Linked DNA regions of Homo sapiens: all the other regions are reported to be linked to region 2. Evidence: microRNA targets listed by miRTarBase, many of them from high-throughput screens and not tested one by one. Region 2 holds a microRNA gene; each other region holds the end of a gene's coding sequence.
What was found. The annotated mature microRNA hsa-miR-425-5p reads AAUGACACGAUCACUCCCGUUGA and lies in region 2 at 1,955-1,977, opposite strand. An mRNA with a match to its seed (bases 2 to 7 or 8) in the 3' UTR can be bound and repressed. Matches are read on the target gene's strand: a 7mer-m8 pairs with bases 2 to 8, a 7mer-A1 pairs with bases 2 to 7 and ends in A, and an 8mer does both.

Region 1: the mRNA of LRP11 is a reported target of hsa-miR-425-5p. Seed matches in the 3' UTR shown: 7mer-A1 at 1,625-1,631.
Region 3: miRTarBase lists PIP4K2A as a target of hsa-miR-425-5p. Seed matches in the 3' UTR shown: 7mer-A1 at 2,467-2,473.
Region 4: miRTarBase lists BCOR as a target of hsa-miR-425-5p. Seed matches in the 3' UTR shown: 8mer at 525-532.
Region 5: miRTarBase lists FAM114A1 as a target of hsa-miR-425-5p. The part of its 3' UTR that is shown has no 7-base or 8-base seed match.

Annotation. Positions count from the first base shown.
Region 1 is chr6:149,816,972-149,821,572 of GRCh38, reverse strand. It overlaps LRP11 (LDL receptor related protein 11), which reads left to right. Exons shown (of 7, transcript NM_032832.6): 7 at 870-2,816. The coding sequence ends at 1,024. RAET1E-LRP11 (RAET1E-LRP11 readthrough) reads left to right here. Exons shown (of 15, transcript NR_182438.1): 15 at 870-2,816. Among named protein-coding and RNA genes, the nearest start is that of RAET1E-AS1, 44 kb to the left of the region's middle.
Region 2 is chr3:49,018,245-49,022,845 of GRCh38, forward strand. It overlaps MIR425 (microRNA 425), which reads right to left and starts at 1,990; the gene lies at 1,904-1,990. It overlaps NDUFAF3 (NADH:ubiquinone oxidoreductase complex assembly factor 3), which reads left to right and starts at 3,877. Exons shown (of 5, transcript NM_199069.2): 1 at 3,877-3,977; 2 at 4,102-4,294; 3 at 4,458-4,524. The coding sequence starts at 3,901. It overlaps MIR191 (microRNA 191), which reads right to left and starts at 2,465; the gene lies at 2,374-2,465. DALRD3 (DALR anticodon binding domain containing 3) reads right to left here and starts at 336. Exons shown (of 12, transcript NM_001009996.3): 1 at 156-336; 2 at 1-74. The coding sequence starts at 320. RefSeq lists an enhancer at 2,964-3,733 and silencers at 3,249-3,451, 3,488-3,677, 3,898-3,997, 4,038-4,157, 4,218-4,267.
Region 3 is chr10:22,533,523-22,538,123 of GRCh38, forward strand. PIP4K2A (phosphatidylinositol-5-phosphate 4-kinase type 2 alpha) reads right to left here. Exons shown (of 10, transcript NM_005028.5): 10 at 1,332-3,759. The coding sequence ends at 3,679. Among named protein-coding and RNA genes, the nearest start is that of LINC03027, 98 kb to the left of the region's middle.
Region 4 is chrX:40,048,056-40,052,579 of GRCh38, reverse strand. BCOR (BCL6 corepressor) reads left to right here. Exons shown (of 15, transcript NM_001123385.2): 15 at 180-1,329. The coding sequence ends at 471. Among named protein-coding and RNA genes, the nearest start is that of LINC03053, 41 kb to the right of the region's middle.
Region 5 is chr4:38,943,105-38,947,705 of GRCh38, reverse strand. FAM114A1 (family with sequence similarity 114 member A1) reads right to left here. Exons shown (of 15, transcript NM_138389.4): 15 at 1,967-4,250. The coding sequence ends at 4,149. Among named protein-coding and RNA genes, the nearest start is that of MIR574, 77 kb to the right of the region's middle.

The DNA.
Region 1 (4,601 bases), not on the chromosome of region 2:
ACTAAAGAAATGTTTTCCTTTAATGTCCAAAATCACACCAGCATATTTGGAAGTTAGTTTTCAACAAAGGTTCTACTGACTGAGTCAGTTCCCTGGATTTAGAAGGAAATAAATTTCTTAAGCCCTAACTAGAACAAGAAATCAGGAGTTAGTTCATACTTAGTTGAAGAATGATCATGTATGAATTCATAAATATAGTCAATGACTACAACAAAAAAATTTCGTGATCAGAATGCCTATTTCAGTTGGATATGAGTGATCAGATGGTAGTATGTGTACCCATTGATGCCATACAAATTTTGTAGGAAGCTGGTAGAGAATTTGGTTTTAAAGAGGTCTGTGTTGGCCGGGCACGGTGGCTCACGCCTGTAATCCCAGCACTTTGGGAGGCCGAGGCAGGTGGATCACGAGGTCAGAAGTTTGAGACCAGCCTGGCCAAGATGTTGAAACCCCATCTCTACTAAAAATACAAAATTTAGCTGGGCACAGTGGCAGGCACCTGTAATCCCAGCTACTCGGGAGGCTGAGGCAGGGGAATCGCTTGAACCCAGGAGGTAGAGGTTGCAGTGAGCCGAGATTGAGCCATTACACTCCAGCCTGGGCAACAGAGCAAGACTCCATCTCAAAAAAAAAAAAAAAAAAAAGTCTAGGTTTGGGACCTGAACCTACAACTTACAGCCTCCTAGGCAAATAAGCAAATTACTTAACCTTGGTACACCTTAGTTAATCTGCAAAATAGTGATAATACTAATAACAATTTGTTTGGATTAAATAAAATAGTGCATGCAAAGCGCGTATCATATAGTGACCAGTAGCTGTCACTGTGACTAATCACTGGCTTGCCCTCTTCATGTCTAACCTTCTCAAAGGTGCAGTGCTACCCCTGGCGCTGGGTTTGGCTATCACTGCTCTGCTGCTTCTCATGGTTGCATGCCGACTACGACTGGTGAAACAGAAACTGAAAAAAGCTCGTCCCATTACATCTGAGGAATCGGACTACCTCATAAATGGGATGTATCTATAGTAATGTAATTTCAATACCTTGGGGCAGGGACATGTTTTGTTTATAATTTATACATCTATTAAGTTCTGGATATTTACAGCTTCTTTTGTTTTTAATTGGGCCAGAAGATTCTGCAAATCCCAAATCTTTCTTTATTATTTATTGTAAAAAAAGTTTCCTTAGAAGTCATAAAATATTTTGAAATTTAGAGAGGAATTCATGATTAAAGATTCCTAAAAATATAATTCTGATTTATGTAAGCTGTCCCTGAAAATAGAAATGTGTACTTAGCTGAGAGAAAATTCAGCATCTCAGGAGGTGGTATTAGGATGACTGTGTTAACCCATTACCTTTTAGAAGCCAACTGTTGGCCCCTTACCATGCTGGACTGCTATAGGCCCAGCTTCCCCTTGTTCTGTGGCCCTTTTCTTCCTCCTTGAAGCTCCCAGTATTCTTTTTCTTTTCCCCTCTAAACCTGTTTCTGAGAGTGGATCTCAAGCAAGTTCATGCCTTCAATCAGATGTTACTTAGGGTGGGTATACCTAAATTATAAACCTTATGTACAAGTCAGTAAGCCTTAGGGAAGGTGAGTGTGGGTCCTTCCTAATCCCTCTGACGTCATGTCATATAGGTGGCTGCCTCCTTAGACTGACCTTTGGGAGAAAAAAACCCCAGACTTTGAATTAGTAACAGCTCTAAGATGGTCATGCAGTGAGATAGGAAATCAAGATGGAAGCAGAGAATCTGGCATGCCAAAAACTAACAGAAACTTAGTTGAAGGCAAAGAGAGCAAGGAGAACGTTTAATACTTCATTACATCAAATCAACACTGCTCCATGGTGAGAGCACAGCAACTCATTTATATATATATATATAGGCTTTGTTGATGAAAAACGACAATTGAAGAGAGGACGTTGAGTGGATTCCTGGGTACAGCTTTTGTAAAAATGTCACCATGGCTTTCATCCAATGGAATGAGTCGATGTTTTTTAATGCTATAAAATGTTAGAATGTGCCATCAGCTAATGCCAGGCTTACGTATTTCTAGACCATAAAGCAGTTTTTCACAAATTCATCTTTACAGAAAACCAGCATCTAGCTTAGCATCTTTCCCCTTTTAATTTGTAGGCTTTTAAAGGCAAATCATTCCCACCATCACTTAACGCCGGGATTATACACATTCTAGAAATGATTCTGAGAGGAGTGTATAGTATGGTGCCTATCTACACTCACATGATATTCTTATTCACGTTTTTTTTAACCATAAGTGGCAAATATTTTAAAATATTTGAAAAACACTCCAGAATCTAGTACGCTTTATTTTTAGACTGAACCTAAAGTAGGTTGTTCTTTTAACAAAGGGTTTAATTCGGGTGGGGAATATAACATATCAAAATACATGAACAAATGGAAAGTTACTTCTAGAAAAGCAAAGAAATTGGGTATCATTTTTGTTTCTTGGGAAGCTAATTTTGTTGAATGTTTAGAATTGAGCAAAGATGTAAATTTTTGAAGGGCAGTTTAGAAAAATTAACTTTGTGAATGAACTTAAGATGTCTGTACTCTATATGTGATGCTGTGCAGTTTGTTTTTATATGGAAAGATGTCAACTATAGCCATAACCAATAAAATAAAAACTGATGAGGCATGCAGCTTTCAGCACATCTTTTATACATGAAGAAATTAATTTTGTGTTGCTATGGTGTTGAAATATCCAAGATGTTCTGTATCTATGTAAACATGATTCCTTTAATAAATTGTATTTTATTATTAAGCCTTTTTTTCCTTTTAATATAATCATAAGTTGCTATTATTGACTGAGCTGTTACTGCATTATTTGGATTCAATCATACCAACCCTATTTTACAACGGGGGAAATTGAGTATTAGAGAAAGTGACATGCCCAGGGCCACATAAAGCATACTCGAGGGAAGGAGAATCAAGGTCTACAAAATATTTATATCAGGTAGACTGAATGTGACTTTTAAAAGTGATCTTCTTACCTGTAGATTATCTGATTGAAGGAGTTCTGCATCTAAGACAATGGAAACATAATTTTAAAGGGAAAGGTGTCCACAATTTCTCTCTTAAACATGTTCTTGTGTTTTACATGTCTTTTCCTAAGGCTCACTAACTCCTCCTGAACACTTAAAACTTACTTTTTCCTTTCATTCTTAGTAGATAGCAGCTACTCCTCCAGCCTTCCACAGCATTTTACTGTTTCAAATCAGCTGAGTACCCAATACATTCTCTTCCATAGGAAAATAACAGGATTTTTTTCATCTTGCTCCCAATGACTTCAAAACCTGTGTTCTGGCCCCACAACTCAGTGCCACTCAGCAACACCTCTCTTCAGTTACTGATGGCTGTTCACATGGCCCTTTACTAGATTTTCCTTTGACCCACACATAGAGATGCTCTTTTTCTTTTTTTGGGACCGAGTCTCACTCTGTTGCCCAGGCTGTAGTGCAGTGGCATGATCTCACCTCAGCTCACTGCAACCTCCGCCTCACAGGTTCAAGCAGTTCTCGTGCCTCAGCCTCCGATTAGCTGGGACTACAGGTGTGCGCCACCATGCCCAGCTAATTTTTGTATTTTTTTTAGTAGAGATGGGGTTTCACCATGTTGGCCAGGCTGGTCTCAAGCTCCTGACCTCAGATGATCCACCCGCCTCGGCCTCCCAAAATGCTGGGATTACAGGCGTGAGCCACCATGCCTGGCCGAGATGCATATTTCTATTTCCCTTTCCATTTTGCTGTTCAAGGCCAACTCTGTTGATTACTTCACCTGTGTAAACAAACAGGTGTGCTGTGCCCCAGAACACAAGCCACCATCCTTACCTTCAGATGTTCCCTCAACATCATGTTGATGATGCCTCTTAACACAGCATCTGAGCCTGAGATTCCGTAATTTGGGCTCCTTGTTAAATTCAACTATAGCATCTCAAAACAATTTCATGTTTTGGCTTACTTTCTCAAAATGGATTATGCCACTTTATTCCTAGCAGAATTACTTTAATGTTTTGTTTTCTGGACTCCAGGTTTTCTACAACTTTTCAGATTAAAATTGAATGAGAATTTCTAACAAAGAACTGCCCAAGCTGAATACAAAGAGGGAGAAGCTTAGTTTGCAGTTTGCCATTCACAAATTTCTCGTCTCGTTGGCTTTTTAAGCATCTGTGTTGCAGACTTTTCTGTTCCTGTCCCCATTTTCCGACCTACTGGATTCTAGTATTCTAAAAATAAAATGAATATTTTAAGTTATAGCTACTTTAGTGGATAAACACAGATTCTCCAGCTAAATAGAAAACCACCAAGGACAAAAATAAGGTTCGACATCCCAAAGCTGAATGTTTTTGGGAATTGACTGGTTAGAACTGAGCCTTCTCCTATATTTCCCATATTTAGGTCTAAGCATATCTTCCTTCCTACTTATTTTAATTCTCAAATCACATCAGTTTTTAAAATCTTATGTCATCACCCTGCAAATTGGAAAGAGATCAATTTATAATATTATTCAGCTTAAATCCTTTTATGAAGTTATTTCAAAATTTAGGAAACTTCTCAAAATATTTTAATACAAAAATAATGTTAACTTT
Region 2 (4,601 bases):
GGCGCGCAGCGCAGCACCGGGGCCACACCGGGGCCCTGCAGGCAGGCGAGGGCATGGAGCAAATGCTCCGGAACCTGCGGGAGAACGGGCGTGTAAAAGAGCCACGGCACGGGGCCCATCTCCCGGCCGCACGGCCCCGCCCGGCTCACGCCCACCTGGCCGTCATCGAAGCGCGCCTGCAGCGCGCGGTGCGGTGCCAGAAAGTCTCGGGAACGCAGGTGGCGGGTGCGCGTCTCCTTGATCCACACCGGACCGCCTGGCCCCAGGGCCGCGTTGAGGGCCCCCAGCGTCTCCCCGACCCCAAGGCGCCTGGTCGCCATGGTGACCGGAAGGAGTAAGCGGAACCGGAAAAAAATTTAGGGAGGTGGAACTTCCGGAAAGGACCGACTAGCTGGGGCGGGGATGCGGCGGTGGTCCCCGTAAGTGGACAGGTGCGCCAGTGGTAGCCCTGTCGGCTGCTTTCGACCTACCGCCCCCAGCGCCCCTTCCGCGTGGTCCACCTGCACAGCCGGGCCCCGGATCTGAAATCTCGGGGCCCTCCCTGGGCCTAGGGTTCTTTCGCTGTGACCCAGGCCTTAACCAGGAAAAGGATCCTCGCGACCCGGTGGGCGCTTAGACCGGGTACCGTCTCTTCTCATCGAAGTCTCACATGTTTGTTTTAATAACATTTCATTTCTCCCATTTTACACATGATGAATATTCGTCACTGGAATAAGGCAGTATAACATTAAGGCCACTTTCACGACCTACTTAAAATATCTCGTTTTAAAAAGAATAGTGTTCCGCGGTTTCAGGTTATTTGCAAGCATTTTCTCGTTTGAGATATGGGTGTTTTTTTGTTTGTTTGAGACGGAGTCTTGCTCTTGTCTCCCAGGCTGGAGTGCAGTGGCACGATCTCGGCTCACTGCAGCCTCCACCTCCCGGATTCACAGGATTCTCCTCCTCAGCCTCCCGAGTAGCTGGGATTACGGGCGCCCGCCACCACGCCCGGCTAATTTTTGTATTTTTAGTAGAGACGGGGTTTCGCCATGTTGGCCAGGCTGGTCTCGAACTCCTGACCTCGTGACCTGCCCGCCTCGGCCTCCGAAAGTGCTGGGATTACAGGCATCAGCCACTGCACCCAGCCCGGGTGGTCTTTATGCCCAATAAATAAGCACTCTGATACAGTTGGCGGTTTTCTTCTCTTGATACCTGAGAAATCACAACCATCATGATGGCTTCCAGAATTACCAGACTTTTTTTTTTTTTTTTTGAGACGGAGTTTCGCTCCTGTTGCCCAGGCTGGAGTACAGTGGTGTGATCTTGGCTCACCGCAACCTCCCCCTCCCGGGTTCAAGTGATTATCCTGCCTCAGTCTCCCAAGTAGCTGGGATTACAGGCACGCGCCACCACGCCCGGCTACTTTTGTATTTTTAATAGAGACGGGGTTTCTCCATGTTTGTCAAGCCTCGAACTCCCGACCTCAGGTGATCCGCCTGCCTCGGCCTCCCAAAGTGCTGGGATTACAGGCGTGAGCCACCGCGCCCGGCTCAGAATGACCAGCTTTTAATGTGACTCCTTTAACCTGGTGTGCTTTAACAACGATCCTTAAAGCTTCCTGTTTTAGGCAACAGCCATTTACGGGCCAACCAAATAATGCGACCATAATAGAAAATAGGCCTCAGTTGGAGTATCTTGCTCCTCTACCAATAGGAAAGGTCTTTTTCTTTCTCCCACAAAGGTTCCCAAATGTCTTCATTTCACTGTAACTTACTCACCCCCCACCCCACCCCCATTCCTTTTAATAGAGAAGCTAACTCAGTAGAGAGAGTTGGGAAATCCGGAGAGCAGGGAAACCCAGGGGCAGGAAAAGCTTGGCAAGGCCCCTTTCTGGGCCAGGGCTGAGGCCCTGCTGGGAGGCGCCGAAAGAGCACTGGGCGGACACGACATTCCCGATGGCTTCTCGGGTGCCCACTCAACGGGAGTGATCGTGTCATTCCAAAGCGCTTTCCATTCTGAAGGTGCATGACCTGGAGACAACTGCTTAGCAGGGTTGGGAACCCTCAGTCAAACTGAGGACTTCAGATACTCTCATCCACGAAGACGGTTGGGGTGGTTTTTCCCCAGGAAGTAAGAGGGCTATCTTTAGCGAGATGCGGGCTGAGGCAGCCCTGGGGGAGTCACTACCATTGCAGCCCTACCCAGAGGTCCTGGGTCCACCCTCCCTCGCCAATCCTCCCCAGGGTTCCAGAGATGGCCACCAGCCTCGGCTCTCCCACGTCTACACCCATCACCTCCAGCCTGAGGGCGCAACTGAGAGGAACTGAGACCCAAGCAGCTCAGTAAAGTATGTCTGGGGGTCAGGGGCACCCCATCTGGGCCAGGGCGCTGCTCAGGCAGGAGAGCAGGGGACGAAATCCAAGCGCAGCTGGAATGCTCTGGAGACAACAGCTGCTTTTGGGATTCCGTTGCCCGCTGTCCAGCCGTTGGCGGGGGGCGGGGGAGCTCCTGCCCCCAGGTCACTCGCCCTGGGGCCACATCAGAACCCGCCCATCCCCAGTCCCAGGAGGAAGACCCGGGAGTAGGTTGTGAAACGGAGTCTAGAGGGAACAAGACGCTCACCTGGGCCACAGAACAATAGAAGGGGAGGTGGGGGCCTCCCCTGGGACCGGGTCCCGATCCGGATTAGATCCGTGGGGCAGGATTAGCCCTGTTGGTCCCACGAAGCCTGGGCCACTGGTGCGGTGACGGTGGTGGGGCGGGCTTCGGAATCCGTCAGGAGGGAAGCGCGCCCGTGGGGCCGGAGAGGAAGTAAACCCGCGCGTCCACCTCGGGGACACCCCCGCGCTCGGTGGCCTTTGTCCGGTGACGCTGCCAGCGCCCGGAGCACCAGGGGCCGAAGGGGTCCACAGAGCAGCCGCGGGACCCCCGGAAACCCATTGCGACCGGCCCCAGGAGACCCACCACCAGGCTCCCACTGTGCCGAGCTTCCCGCTCGCCCGGCCCCGCGGGTAGCGAAAGCGACAATGTTCCCCTGAGGCCACGACAGAGCCGGCGTGCCGAGATGCCCAAACCCCGCGCGGGGGCCAGCGACTCTCGCGCCAGTAGGCCCTTGACTTGGATCAAGACGGGGGACGGGGGACTCCCAGGACGCGAGCAGAGTGAACGAGGACAAGGTGATGCTCCACGCGCTTCTACTTCAAGTCTGGTCCGGTTCGGCCTGGTCTGGGCCAGCCGAACAGCCACCCAAACACTATCACAGCTTGCCCTTCCGCTTGCTCTGGCTGCCTGCAGACTTGGAGCCATTTTAAGGAGAAACCACCTGGCCACGCCCCCTAGAGAACCCGAGAAGCCAATCCACGCTCGGCCACGCCCCTCTCCGCGCGCTGCGGAGAGGCCAACGGTCGCGCGGGTGACGGTTAGGGCGGGGCGTGCTTCCGCGTCTAGCCGGAGAAACTTGAGCCGGCTGCCCCGCCCACGGTGCCCGAAGCCCCAAAGGCTGGAATTAGGGGCTAGAAGTCTGGCACCCACCGCCTGGCCAGGTGTTCGGGACGCGACCAGGTGGGCGGTCGCCCCGCCCCGGGAGCGCGGCTTAATAGCTGAGAGCCCGGGGGCCAGGCCGCGGCTGCGGCCCAGGCAACGCCCTGAGGGTGGCCACGCTGCCAGGTGTTCCACTCCCCCGGGACTATGGGCAAGGGCCCGGGGCGGGGAGGGCGGCAGGTGCTGACACTGGAGCTGCGCCGGAGGTCGGGGAACTCGGCCTCCTAAGACTGAGGACACTCGCCTGCTGGGCCGGTCGAGCTGTGCGGTGCCCTCCGGGACGCAGGGGGCGCTGCAGCCACGCTGGGTCAGGCTCCGCAGGGCCCTCCCAACCCGGGGACTAACGGCGCCGGTGACGACTTCGCCGCGCGTTGGTCAGCCATGGCCACCGCTCTCGCGCTACGTAGCTTGTACCGAGCGCGACCCTCGCTGCGCTGTCCGCCCGTTGAGCTTCCCTGGTGAGCTTGGACCCCGCGCCCTCGACCATCCAGCCCCCTAGGGCCGGCGACTGCCAGCCCAGCACCTTCCGGCCTCTCGGGCTGCCCGGCCCGGCCCCGCGCCCCTGACCCTTTCCCTCCGCAGGGCCCCGCGGCGAGGGCATCGGCTCTCGCCGGCGGATGACGAGCTGTATCAGCGGACGCGCATCTCTCTGCTGCAACGCGAGGCCGCTCAGGCAATGTACATCGACAGCTACAACAGCCGCGGCTTCATGATAAACGGAAACCGCGTGCTCGGCCCCTGCGCTCTGCTCCCGCACTCGGTGGTGCAGTGGAACGTGAGTCCTGGCCCGCAGTGTGGAAACTGAGGCCCAGAGTCACAGGCCCTCACCCTGCTTGGTCCCTGCAAACTTGGCTTTCCTCTGTCTCCTCCTGCAGTGGATGGAGATGGGGAGAGGCTGCGTGGATTTGTCGTATTAAATGTGCCTCCTCCCTGCACAGGTGGGATCCCACCAGGACATCACCGAAGACAGCTTTTCCCTCTTCTGGTTGCTGGAGCCCCGGATAGGTACTGGGGAAGGGGAGGGAGAACAGAGGTGTTCTGGGCCCCAGAAGGCGACCCCCACTGCAGCCTCTCAACAGAAC
Region 3 (4,601 bases), not on the chromosome of region 2:
AAATAACCTTCTGGAACTATTGTGGATTCTAATCCAGGAACTTAACCAAAATGAAGGGAAAATGAATGTCCACATTCAAACAGTCCACAAAGAACATTGAATTAAAGCTCCCTGCTGACCACAGTCAATTCTACAATAATGCAACATGTATGTTCCTAGAAATCACTGCTTTAGGCAAAGCTGCACAATGGAAATCACAGAACTTCTGGGAAAAATGAAACTAGGGCCACAACATCCCAAAATGTAATGAGTCACACACTGAAAAGAAAAAGAAATCTAATAAAAACAGTAGCACAATTATAAAAACGCTAACTGGTTAGGAAATATTCAAAATATAAAAACAGGGCAAGTTACCTTGAAAAAGATGTAAGGCACGCCTGTGGTTGTGGGCATCAGAAGGATGGCAGCTCTTGGGTTATTGTAAAGAGGAGAAAGGTGATCTGATGTCAGGTGGAAACGTGTAACTCCAGATATGAACGAGTGTAACAAATCACATGCACTGAAGTGAGGTGCTGGAGATGTTTGAAGTGTCGGTGTGTTGTGTTTCCCTATGCAGCTCAGTTGAGTGCAGTTCTCTGCATTCACCTAATGTTCCTTGCAGACCAAACGGCACACAAGCAATGTGACAAGTGCATTATGCTCAAATTATTCTCTAATATGGTGGTCCCCAATCTTTTTGGTGCCAGGGGCTGGTTTTGTGGAAGACAGTTTTTCCACGGACTGGCAGGGGGCTGAGGAGATGGTTTTAGGAAGAAACTGTTCCACCTCAGATCATCAGACATTAGTTAGATTCACATAAAGAGTGCTCAACCTAGATTCCTCCCATGTGCAGTTCACAATAGGGTTCGCGCTCCTATGAGAATCTAATGCTGCTGCTGATCTGAAAGAGGCGGGGCATAGGCGGTAATGCTGGCCAGCTGCTCACCTCCTGCTGTGCAGCCAGGTTCCTAACAGGCCATGGACTAGTACCGGTCCGTGGCCCGGGGTTTGGGGACCCCTGCTATAATACATCAGTTGCATTAGAAGAAAAATGAGTTATCAGAGCAAGTGCTATAGACAAGCTGTCTGTGTTAACCTGGCACCAAGTGGAATGCCGTTAAGTCTGCTATCCATCAATGGTATCCCAAGGAAGTTTCAAAAAATGGTGATACACATAGAATTAAGGTGTATCAAAGCTAAAAACAAAACATATGACTTTATAGGATGTTCATGGAAGAGATTCTTTTCCTCTACTTGTTCATCTTGCGGCAAAGTCAATTGTGTTGTGGAAGTTTGTTATTACTGATAAAATAATTCCCAAACTGAAGGCAAGGCTCTAGAAACTAAAAAGATTCAATTCCACTTTCATTTCTTCAAGGATTAGCTAAAGACACTGTCAGGACCGAGTATTTAAAATGTGTTTGGAACAGAGACACACAATTGGGACAGAGGAAAAAAGGATTCATCTTGTGAGTCATCAAAAGTGCTTTATTTGTAAAGCCCGGCTCATGACTGGAGTGTATTGTTAGCACTAGGAGATAACAGGGCAAACGTCCTCACTCTGTCCAAATGGTTTATCAACAGAAATAAATGACAGACTGTTTGTTATAGACAAAAATAAAAGCATTCTGTAAACTTCTAAAAGCATACACAGATTGGCCCCCAAGGAAACAGTTACTCAAATAATGTATGTGTACCTTATCTTTACTTCAGGGTCTCATGGTTGTGGTCTTGGGTCAAACCACAGTAGAACTTCACAACACAAAAACTGATCTGATGCCAGAATTAATGGTGCAGGGAAAAACCAAATCATAGTATGGATTACTTTAAATACATAAAAGATGAATCTGTACACTACGTGACAGTGGTGTTAACACTGGCTGCTGAGGATACCAAATCTACATAAAATGAGTGGACAGTATACGGAGGGCACGACTGCTGGCTTCCAAAGACTCTGTGAACTAGATCCACATACACGGGGCACAGCTGCAATCTGGACAGCCCTGAAGTAAAGTTCCTGGAAAAGGCAGTACGGCAGGGAGATCTGTTGAGTTGCAAGTAATAATTAAAGGGTCGATTTTTGTTTGTTTGTTTTCTTTTCTGAAACTGCCCACAAAAATCATATCATGTTTTAAACAAGGAGTTTCAAAGGCATGGCTTTAGCGCAGCATGTAAGTGGATAACCTACTCTAAGCAAGACTAATATTTAAGCTCAATGCCTTTTGGAAAATGCAGGAGAGTTGGTAGATACATGATCTAGGTTGGAAATTTATAACTTGATTAAAAACAATCAGCACAGTTTAGGGCAATGAACTTTCATAAACCAGACTGGGGCGAAATCTCTTTTTAAAAAAATCAATCATTAGGTTGATAAATGTACATTTGGAGGAAAAAAAAATCCTTTTCCTTTTATTGTGAAAGACTGTCTACCATGTACTTTGACTAAAACACTCACGTAAAAACATGGCTGCAGGATACGTCTCAAAATATGACAAACGTTATTTCACCTATACTGTGACTTTACATGTAAACTTCAAAAATCACATGCTGTACATCAAATTTTTAGATTCAAAAGATATCCCTGTTTTCCTAATAATGTAAACAGTAAAACTGAGGGTTTCAGTTAAAGGGATAATTCGTAACAAAATCCCATTGTTGAAACAATGGTCAAACATAAACATCTTATAATTCAGATCTGCATTTGGTAACAGGAGAATTGAGAGTTTTGATGCTTTGCTGGTTTTCCCACAGTGGGAGATGTAGATACCATTGCCCCAAACTATGCACTTTTCAGGTAAGCTTTACTTTTATTTTGTAGCATTAATTCCTATATTGCAACGTAAGGGTGAACAATGAAGGCTCCAGGCAAGAAAAGAGAAGTAAGCAGTTTTCCTGGACATATTGGCCGAGGTGAAAAATGTATAGAGAATCACTGGGGCATCAGCTGCTTGTTGCGGGAGGGGTGGGGGCTCTGGACACCAGGGGGTCCTGACAAGGCTGGGGCCAGAACCCTGAACCAGTACACACGGAGACGCCAGCATTCTTCCGTCCAGTGCTGGGGGCTCAGGTTATCAGTGTTAGGGAGAGTGTCTGCGTGCGGGGTAGAAATGGAACATTCGCTGTAGGTTTTTTCCTTGGAATCATCATCATTATTATAATAATCATCATTATTATCTTCATTATTCTGAATACTGTCTCACATCTTTCAACTCCAAAAAAAAAAAAAAAAAAAAAAAACTGATCCACAGTTTGTTGTGTGATGCCAACACGGTGCCTGACATCATGCACTTCCTTCTCCCCTCCCCCACACGTGTGTTCATTCACTCACTCACTCACTCACTCATTCATTCGGCCATAGCTGGAATCAAAGGGTCTTTGTTGGGACACATACTGACCGAAGTGGATCTGTTTTAATTAATTTATGACTTTTAAAATGCACACGCGCGCACACACTCACCCCCCCCCAACACACACACACACACATATACACAAAGTCAGAAATAGCTAGAACGATGCTGGGAAAATCAGGTAGCTGTAAAGCGAGTAGCCCCCAAATCAGTCATCTTGGCCTGAAGATGTAAACAAGGAGGTTTGCTTCCTGCAAGATGAGTACTTCACTGAGTTTGGTTTTCATTTTTCCTACACCGAAGCCACCTCTGTCCATCCAATGTTCATGTCTGTCCGAGGCTGCGCAGGAGGTTACGTCAAGATGTGGCCAATAAAGTCCAAAAAGCGCTTTGAATACTGTTCTGGGTTCACGGTGGAGATCTCCGCGCCAGCCTGGGCAGTTTTTAAAAAAGGAAATATTGACATAGTGTTTATGATTTCCCCAAATTATTACTCAATATCTACAGCTATTTCCAATGGCAACTGAATATACAGCAAGCAATTTTCAAATCCATGCAGTCTCTGCTCTGAAAAACATCACTCAAAATATCTTGGCGCTCATGGTTGAATAAGCAAGGTTCTTACAAATCTGTGTCTGCAAATGAGACAAAGGGCGACAGGAGCACCAGATGCTACCACACACACCGGGGCTGTTGCAACTCACAAAAAAATCAAACAGGCCACGTTTGGGATGTTACTATCAAAGAGTGGAATTGTTCAGAAGTCACGGAAACAATACTTATGTTATACTTTTCAAGAAGGCAGACTGGAGCCACCTTGAGAATGACATCAACATTTGGCGAAAGGGAAACCTTAATGACGATGACTTAAAACCGCATGATTTCTTCAGGACCCCTTCGTTTCTGGACAGAGGCCCCCAGCTCAGTGCTCAAACATGAGGGGCAACAGCAGCAGCCACAGGTTCTGGGACAGCTGCCCCCAGCCCATTCCCTGCACCGTAACCAGGTGAGGCACAACACTGCTGGCTCCATCTTGCCCACGGGGGAAGGAGCTGACTTCCCTCTGCAGCAGCACACAGGGGTGCCACTGTTCCCCTTTCTGAGCCCTGCAGAGAGCAAGCAAGCCTGGCCCCCTGCAGAAGCACGGTGAGGGATTTTTCCATGATGAGATGCAGGGTGCAGGCCAGCACACTCAAGGGAGTCACTCACTGGCCAGTTTCCTGAGCTGCAAAGGGCAAGCACGGAGTTTTGCTAAGTGAGCATGTGCTGTTTTTA
Region 4 (4,524 bases), not on the chromosome of region 2:
AAAAAAAAAAAAAAAAAAAAAAAATGGTGATCAGAGAGTAGGTATGGTGAGAAATGAGGGGTGGGAGCAGAATGAAAGGACATAGAGGCTGGTCCACTTGGGTTGGTAGTTAATATTAATAGTTGGGCGCACTTTTCATTTTACTGGAAACTCAAAGCATTTTCCTTTCTGTTTTGTAGGCCACGAAACTGGCTACTGCTTTCGGATGTCCTTAAGAAATTGAAAATGTCCTCCCGCATATTTCGCTGCAATTTTCCAAACGTGGAAATTGTCACCATTGCAGAGGCAGAATTTTATCGGCAGGTTTCTGCAAGTCTCTTGTTCTCTTGCTCCAAAGACCTGGAAGCCTTCAACCCTGAAAGTAAGGAGCTGTTAGATCTGGTGGAATTCACGAACGAAATTCAGACTCTGCTGGGCTCCTCTGTAGAGTGGCTCCACCCCAGTGATCTGGCCTCAGACAACTACTGGTGAGCAAGCTGGACCCACCATGTACAGTGTGTTATAGTGTTAATCCTTGTGCATATGTGTCATAATACAACTATTTCTGTAAAGAAAGGACACTATTACATATGAAAATATCTCTTCTTTATATAAGAGAAATTACTCCAGTCAGAAGGACTTAGAAACATGTTTTTTTCCTTTTAAACTTTTAAGTCAGTTTTTATGAAGTTGTTATAATGTTTCTTTACTTTTCAATGCACACATGCTTTGGGATACGTTTGTTTTTACTTGGAACATTTGTTTCTTTTCTTTTTTAAGGAGAAAAAAAAATGAGTAAAAGGAGCTCCACACTTTGACTTAATTTCATACAAAGCTCTGATGACAGGCCATGACTGTAGAGTGGTCAGAACTGTGTGGTTGGTTTGAGGGAGCGAATTCGGGGAAGGCACTTGGTGATATAACTTTGTTTTGTTTACAGAGTACCTGCTCGGGCCAGGTAAATGCTATTGGATGTAATCCAGTAGTGTGTAATATAAATTCAAACCATATCCACACACAACAACTAATTGTATGAAACTTTTATATCCTAATTTAAAAGCTGTGAAATTAGTTTTCACGCATCAAACCGGATTGTTTATATGTTTAAACATTTTATGCTCTTATTTAAAGAAGACTTTGAGCTATTTTTTTCTGTACCCTGTAAAATATTGAAAACTAACATAATATGTTGAGGTTGCTTGGAAATGTACATAAAACTAAAATTTTCTGAATCGTGTGTTTATGTTTGAAATCTGTGTTTTAACTTTGTAAGTAAATTCTCTGCCTTTGTATTTATATTTTACAAAAATTTTCTTAAAAGGCAATAAAACTGTTGAGGAAAGGAGAAAATTGAAGTACCTTGTGTCCCATGTATTCCTAAAGCATTATTGTTGTCCCTGATTCTTCTTAAATGGTGCTGGTGATGTATTCCCTATAGATAACTTTAGAGCAATTTATAGTCTCTGGAAACCAAAGCAGACTGGAGGATTTTGGAGGAGTTATACTCAGAATATAATTTGGAGTCCTATTCTGAAAGCCCAATTCTTGGACATATTTCCTGTCTCTTAGAACCTTCTCTTTCCTGTCTCCTTTGATGCTTATGGAGGCTTTTGCACTGCCTTTGGCCTTGACCTATTTCAGTCCCACGTCATGGCCAACTCTCTAGGAGTGTTTTTTCTGAAGCTAGGCATTTGTTATGTCACTTCTGCAGCCCTTCTGTTGCATGGCCTGAGAGTCAAGGCCTGTAGAGCCAGCCTTTCCTCTGTTCTTGACTTTTCCCAGCAGTATCTGCACTGGGCACTATCAGTTGGCCCTTGATTTCCATCTCACTTGCTTTTGTGCCTGTCCTTCACTATAGAGGCTAGAAAGCTGAAAACTACTTGACTCCCTTGCAGCTAGCTTTCTGAGTGCATATTCTGTTTGGAGGGCAGCATGAGGTAGGGGCACCTTCCTACTATAGTGGCTGCGGATAGGAAAATTTGAAGAGAATGCCAGCCAGTTGGAATGACTGACCAGCATTCCAGTGTCTGGTTTTCAGCTTGGTGGGTGATGAGATACAGTAGTGGTTGTGGCAGTGGCAGCTTTCTAATTCTTGGATGACAGCCTCAGCAGATTGTTCGTGAACCCTGTGGATCCAGAGTTGTCCCTGACTCCTGTTCCCCCAGCCCTTCCAAAGACCTTATTCATCTGGGTCCTTGTGTCAAATCCATTTGTGCACCGAATGCCCTCAGTGCTTTCTGATCCTGCATGGAACACTAGGACTGCGAAAGCAGAGGAAAGAGGCTGTGGGGACACTGTATTTGTCAGGCCAGCAAACACTGTGGAAGAAAAAAAAGGAAAAGTGAGGCATTGTTGGGAATGAAGAAATTCCATGTGAGGAATGCAAGAGCCCTTTTTGGGGGAAGGTTGGCTACGAATGAAGTTTGGAGTGTATCTTGAAGACAAAAGGCAGCCTACCATCTTATTTACTAATTTTTCTGATATTAGAAAATGTATACCTTATTTAAAAAACCCAATCATGTCAGAAATAGACACGTTTCCTATTATCCCCTCCCCTCCCCCACCCATGTTAACCACTATTAACAGTTTACTTAGTTTTTGTTTTACAGGAAGTCCCCTCAAATAGCTAGGGGGAGTGTTGAAGGGAAAAAAACAGACGACAAGACCAGTAAAACAGACCTGTAGAAATGATTTAAGCAGAAGAGGACTGGTGAAGCTGAACTACCATCAAAGCTACGAGAGATCCTACACACCCAGATTTAAAAAATAATAAAAACTTAAGGGCATCCGGCTCTTTGTATTGGGGTTGGAGGCAAAGGGGGAGCCCAAGGCCAACTGAGATTTTTATCTTGGATGAAGGTCATTCTGTTAATTAAGCTAGGAAAACAGGTGAGAGCCACAAGGTTAGGGTGTGCAGAAGAAGCAGCTTGGTGCAGGAGACATTTAAGGCTGTGGTTCATGCAGTTGGAGGAGCTAGTAGTCAGAACAGTTAGTGCAAGAACTGTCAGGGTGGTTGGAAACATGGACGTAGAACTGACTGGGGGTATAGATGAGATCCCCATGGCTGAGAAAGGTTTGGATGTAGAGCAATGCCCCACCCCTGCTCAGGAACTCCCCATGGGTAATAGAGCTCACCATGAACATAGAGTGGGCCACAGGTATGGGCCAGATCACACTCCACAGGGAGAGGGACGCGTCACCAGAAGGTAGGGGAGCTTATTGTGTGTTGAGAGGAACTCAGCATGGGTGTTCAAGTGCTCACCACAGGTTTGGAGCAATCATGATCTAAGGTCACCTCGGGCGTTGAAGAGCTCTCCACAGGCAAAGATGTTAACACAGGTGTAAGTGAGATCCCACTGCAGGTAGAGTGCCCATTCCAGTAGAACTCCTCCTGGGGGGAAGGGAGTGGGTGTAGAAGACACCACAGGCATAGATGAGATCGTATTGGCCGTATAGAAACACCATGGGTTTAGAAGAGCTCACCAGAGGTACAGAGCAGACCTTTATAGGCCCTCATTTGGGTGTCCAGGAACCCACCAGCAACATAGAAGAGTTTCCATGAAGGTCAACATGAGTGCAGTGGAGCTCACCACGGGTAGACAGCAGAAGTGGTTCATTCCAATTCTGAAGGTGTCCCTTAGGATCAGGACATGCTTTCCTTTGCCCTGTCCTCCCTCTTCCTGGCTAGAATGTGGCTGCTCTAGCTATAGCTGTCACAACCACCTTGGACCATGAAGTATCGAAGTCGAGCACTGCTGGACAAGTTTGAAGGAGCATGGGTCTTTGAGAATCTCCTGGAACCAAGCCACCATACCAGCCCTACCCTACCTGCCATTTACGTTAATTGATGTAATAGCAAAACACCCAAATCTCCATCAGTTGGGCACTGGTCGAGTTAACAATGGTACACCCACACAGTGGAATACTATGCAACTGGAAAAAGAATTGAGGAATAGTTCCCTAACTTGCTTTAGAGTGGTCTTCCAATTATTATTATTTTATTTTATTATTTATTATTATTATTTTTTGAGACAGTCTTGCTCTGTTGCCCAGACTTGGAGTGCAGTGGTACAACCTCTGCTCACTGCAACCTCTGCCCACTGCAACCTCTGCCTCCTGGGTTCAGGCAATTCTCCTGCCTCAGCCTCCCAAGTAGCTGGAATTATAGGCACCCGCCACCATGCCCAGCTAATTTTTATGTTTTTAGTAGAGACAGGGTTTTACCATGTTGGCCAGGCTAGTCCTGAACTCCTGGTCTCAGGTGATCCACCCAGCCTCAGCCTCCCAAAGTGCCAGGATTACAGGCGTGAGCTACCATGCCTGGCCTATTTATTTTTTTGAGACAGGGTCTCGTCTCGCTCTTGCCCAAGCTGGAGTGCAGTGGTACAATCATGGCTCACCACCGCCTCAACTCCCCAGGCTCAAGCAATCCTCCTGCCTCACCCTCCTGAATAGCTGGGACTACAGACAAGCACCACCATTCTGGGGTAATTATTTTGTTTTTTTGGAGAGATGGGAGACTTGCTGTGTTGGCCAGGCTGTTCT
Region 5 (4,601 bases), not on the chromosome of region 2:
ACAGTAATTTAAGACACCAAGTTGAAGCCTGGATCTGCATATCAAAATGTAGGGCACGCTTACTTAGGAGGAAGATCAAAGGGCAGTTTTTACATTATAGAAAAAACTAGCTTAACCCTGAAAAATAATTGCTTTTATAAAAAATTAAATCATTTGAAGTCATGTATTATGATCAACCCCATCTGTTCAACACACACACACACACACACACACACGTTTTTAGGAAAGATGAGAAATTAAATGTTCATTTCAAATTGTTGCTAAATTGCTTTCCTGAGATGTTATATCCTGGACCTCCGGGATGGCTATGATTGGAATCTGTCTGCCTTTATTTCTAACATGAAAACACCATGGCCCGCCTGTGCAGAAGGTGACTTCCCAGGTATCTGAGCACCTTGGGGAAGCTAATTTCTACAAACCGCAAAGGAACTCTCTTATTTCCCTATTCAGGCCCCTACCTTGTATTCAGCACTTTACTTCAGCCTGCCGAAGGCTGAACTTCCTTCAACCCCTTTGAGCCCTCATCTGAGGTCCATAGTTCCTTAGCTGGTATTGCTGAGGCTGTAGCACATCCTCACTCACCCCTGCCAGGGCCTCAGCTCATCACACTGCTCATTTAGCTATGAGCTTGATGTGCAGCCCAGGGTGACACTCAGAGAAAACAGAGCCTTCTCTTCTTGGTTGGGTATAATATTTAAGCTAAGGCCTATGCTTTAAGATTTGGGACTCAATTTTGCCCTTTCGATCTGTCTATATCAATACCTGAAAGCAGTTTTTCTTGAACTCATTTTACTTTGATTTTGAGATCCGCTTTTGATGCTTCTTATTTAATAAGGCACAGGCACAGGCCTACATTCATTATTTAGACTAGAACTGATTTTGCACTTGATGTTAAGAGAAAAAACTGGCACGCTTGTTCAGGGTAATTGCATAGAATGAAATGAATGCAATTTATGTAAAGCATTATTGAAGGAATAAAAAACTTCCAAGGTAAGCCTGTTAAATCATTCATTTAGTAACTGACTGACATTTGCACAGATCTGGATCCTGCGCTTTGCCAGATTTTAAAGCAAAGCAAAGAAACAATTACCTAAAAGTGGTGGTGAAAAACAGTATTGTAAGAAATCCTGGAAGGTGGATCTATTTTAAGTGATTATTCTCTCTTAAATAATGTAATTCACAGACTATGGAACTAGGCCCAGGGAATCATCTCTCAGCCTGTCTTCACCTGGCAACCTTAGGCATTCCAGCATTAGAAGATAAGTGCAATGCCAATGACACCAACCACTTCTTTTTGAATGATTATCTCTTATTCTTTTAAACATTTATATTTCATTTTATCATTAAAGTTTTTGCTATGCACGCACTACACAGGTGCAGTTAGGCTTAAAGTCTAAGTCTAGGATTCTAGCTCCTTGAGAAATACTTGTTTCTCTTTTTTTCTCTCTTTTTATTTTTTTAATTGAGACGGGATCTCCCTCTGCCGCCCAGACTGGAGTGCAGTGGTGTATCTTGGCTCACTGCAACCTCTGCCAGCCAGGCTCAAACGATTCTCCTGCCTCAGCCTCCCGAGTAGCTGGGACTACAGGCGCGACCCACCACATCCGGCTAATTTTTTTGTATTTTTAGTGGAGACAGGGTTTTACCATGTCTGCCAGGCTGCTCTCGAACTCCTGACCTCAGGTAATCCGCCCACCTCAGCCTCCCAAAGTGCTGGGATTACAGGTGTGAGCCACTGAGCCCTGCCACTTGTTTCTCTTTTACATTTCCACTTAATATCTAAACCCATCTGATGCAAAAAACAAAACAACAAAAAACAACAAAAAACTGATGTGAAGAAATTGTAAATCTATATCATTTCCTCTGCCCTACACATAAAAAGTCTAAAATTGATGAAGAGGTAAATGCAACATTTTCATCAGTTAATCATTCTCTAGACTTAATAAAAACATTTCTGGCAATCAGAAAAGGGGAAAAATCTTTAATTGATTTCTCAGGTAATTTTTTTCCAGATTGTACATAAAGTGTTCTTATGTTCTCTATTTGGATGTTTCAGGAGACATACAAATGAAATACAGTACATAGACAAATGAAATGCTAATAAGAAGTAGGATGATATTAAAATATCCTTACTTTGCCTGTATGGAACAAAGGCAGTCTACTCCATCGGGGAATCAAAGCAAATGTGAATAAGAGGTTTCCACCTTGCAAAACTGTGAGCTTCATTTGCCCTGGAGAGAACTACTAGGCAAGGCTTCACATGACAGTACCTGTAGGGATGTCCATGGGGCTGTGAAGCAGGTGTATTGTATCGAACATGCAGCTGCAATGAAGGCGTGGAGCTCAGGAGAAGCAGCCACTGACAATGCCCCTCCTGGCCGCAGGGTCTTCTGTGCAGCCTCCCATGGATCAATATACCAGTTAGTTAAAACACACATCAGTATTTTCTGTCCTTTAGCAACGATGATGATATTTGCCACCAGCGAGTGTGATCTGTGAGGCGATTTTAAAATGCAGTCCTGGGATTCTACTGTATTGAAACACCTTTGATTTTCTATTTGAATACTTCCAAGCTTTGTAATTATGCCACCATGTGCTCGTGATCGTAAGAAATTAATTTTAAACTAAATATTCTTCAGTATCCCTTTTCATATATATTTTCACCTCATATACATAGTTTGGGATAAAATAGTGTAAAGAGTATAGGAAAATGCAACAAATTAAAGGGTAGGACATTAAATAAAACACCAATTTACCTTGTTCTTCAAAGTTTTTAAGGTTCAAAAATTTATTGGTATTTTAAGCCAGTGGTCCCCAACCTTTCTGGTACCAGGGACCGGTTTCATGGAAGACAATTTTTTCACGGACTCGGGGTAGCGGGATGGGGGTGGGGGATGGTTTCGGCACGAAGCTATTCAACCTCAGATCATGAGGCATTAGATTCATCAGGCATTAGATTCTCATAAGGAGTGCACAACCTAGATCCCTCGCATGTGCAGTTCACAACAGGGTTCGCACTCCCATGAGACTCTAATGCTGCTGCTGACCTGACGGGAGGCAGAGCTCAGGCAGTAATGCAAGCTCTGGGGAGCAGCTGTAAATACAGATGAAGCTGTGCTCACTCACCCACCGCTCACCCCCTGCTGTGTGGCCTGGTTCCTAACCAGTGCCACGGACTGGTACTGGTCTGTGGCCTGGGGGTGGGGACCCCTGTTTTAAGCAGTTTAAGAATTATTCTTTTTCAGAATATCTACCTCTACTGGGATAAGATCACGTTTCTTTACTGTGAGCACACAGTAGGTGCTCAATAAATGCTTGTTGCAAGAATGAATGACCGGCCGGGCGCGGTGGCTCAAGCCTGTAATCCCAGCACTTTGGGAGGCTGAGGCGGGCAGATCACGAGGTCAGGAGATCGAGACCATCCTGGCCAACATGGTGAAACCCTGTCTCTACTAAAAATACAAAAAAAATTGGCTGGGCGTGGTGGCACACACCTGTAGTCCCAGCTACTCAGGAGGCTGAGGCAGGAGAATCGATTGAACCCAGGAGGCGGAGGTTGCAGTGAGCCGAGATTGTGCCAACGCACTCCAGCCTGGCGACAGAGTGAGACTCTGTCTCAAAAAAAAAAAAAAAAAAAGAATGACAATATGTTCCTATTTTTTACCATAATAGGTAAAATCTATAAGTAGTGTTATTTTTGCCTGCGACATTTATGTAACAAAACAAAGTTCAGTTTTAGAATTGATTTAAAGTAATACTATAAGAATGGAACATTTAAAGGTTGAAACATAAAGGATTAAACAAAAGTCTAAGGTCTCCCCATGAGTTTCTAAATATAGCATGCTTAACCAGGAAAATGAACACGAATATTTGTAAATAAATTTCAGATGAAAGGAAATTTTCAATATAAGCTGTGTAAGTTTAAATTAACATAAAGAAAACACAATTGTTTGTAAAAACAATTATACACATTGAGAGAAATGATAACTCTCTCTAAATTTGCATTCTCAATATTGTCTGTGCAAAATTGCTTGTAGTGTCCTCAAATGGATGTCTGTGGCCAGGCGCACAGAGAACATCCCCTTAAATGGTACATATTGAGGCAAGGCGGCCAGCTGTCTCCTTTAACTAGATGGAGTCTGGCCAGGTCACGGCTGTGCTTTCAAACAACTGGTCTGGATATGTGAGACCTGCAGAACAGGCAGCAGCAGCTGGAAGGCATCCTGTATGTACGTTGTACTGTTGCAGCCCTGTGAGAGGAGAAAAATGAGGTTGAAGGGTTATTTTCATAGTTCAACCTTGACAATACTTCCAATTGGATAATGTTCCCACTCTTCAACCCACCCCCCATATTGGATTATATTTATCTTGCAATATTGGTGCTTAAAGCAAGTGTAAACACATGCTTTTGGATGGGGCATGTCCAGCTCTCAATTATCTATACTAACAGAGAGAATAATTCACTCAAAATGAGGCAAATCATTTTCATGGAATTTTTTTTTTTTTTTTTTTTTGAGACAGAGTCTTGCTCTGACGTCAGGCTGGAGTGCAGAGGCACGATCTTGGCTCACTGCAACTTCCGCCTCCCAGGTTCAAGCAAT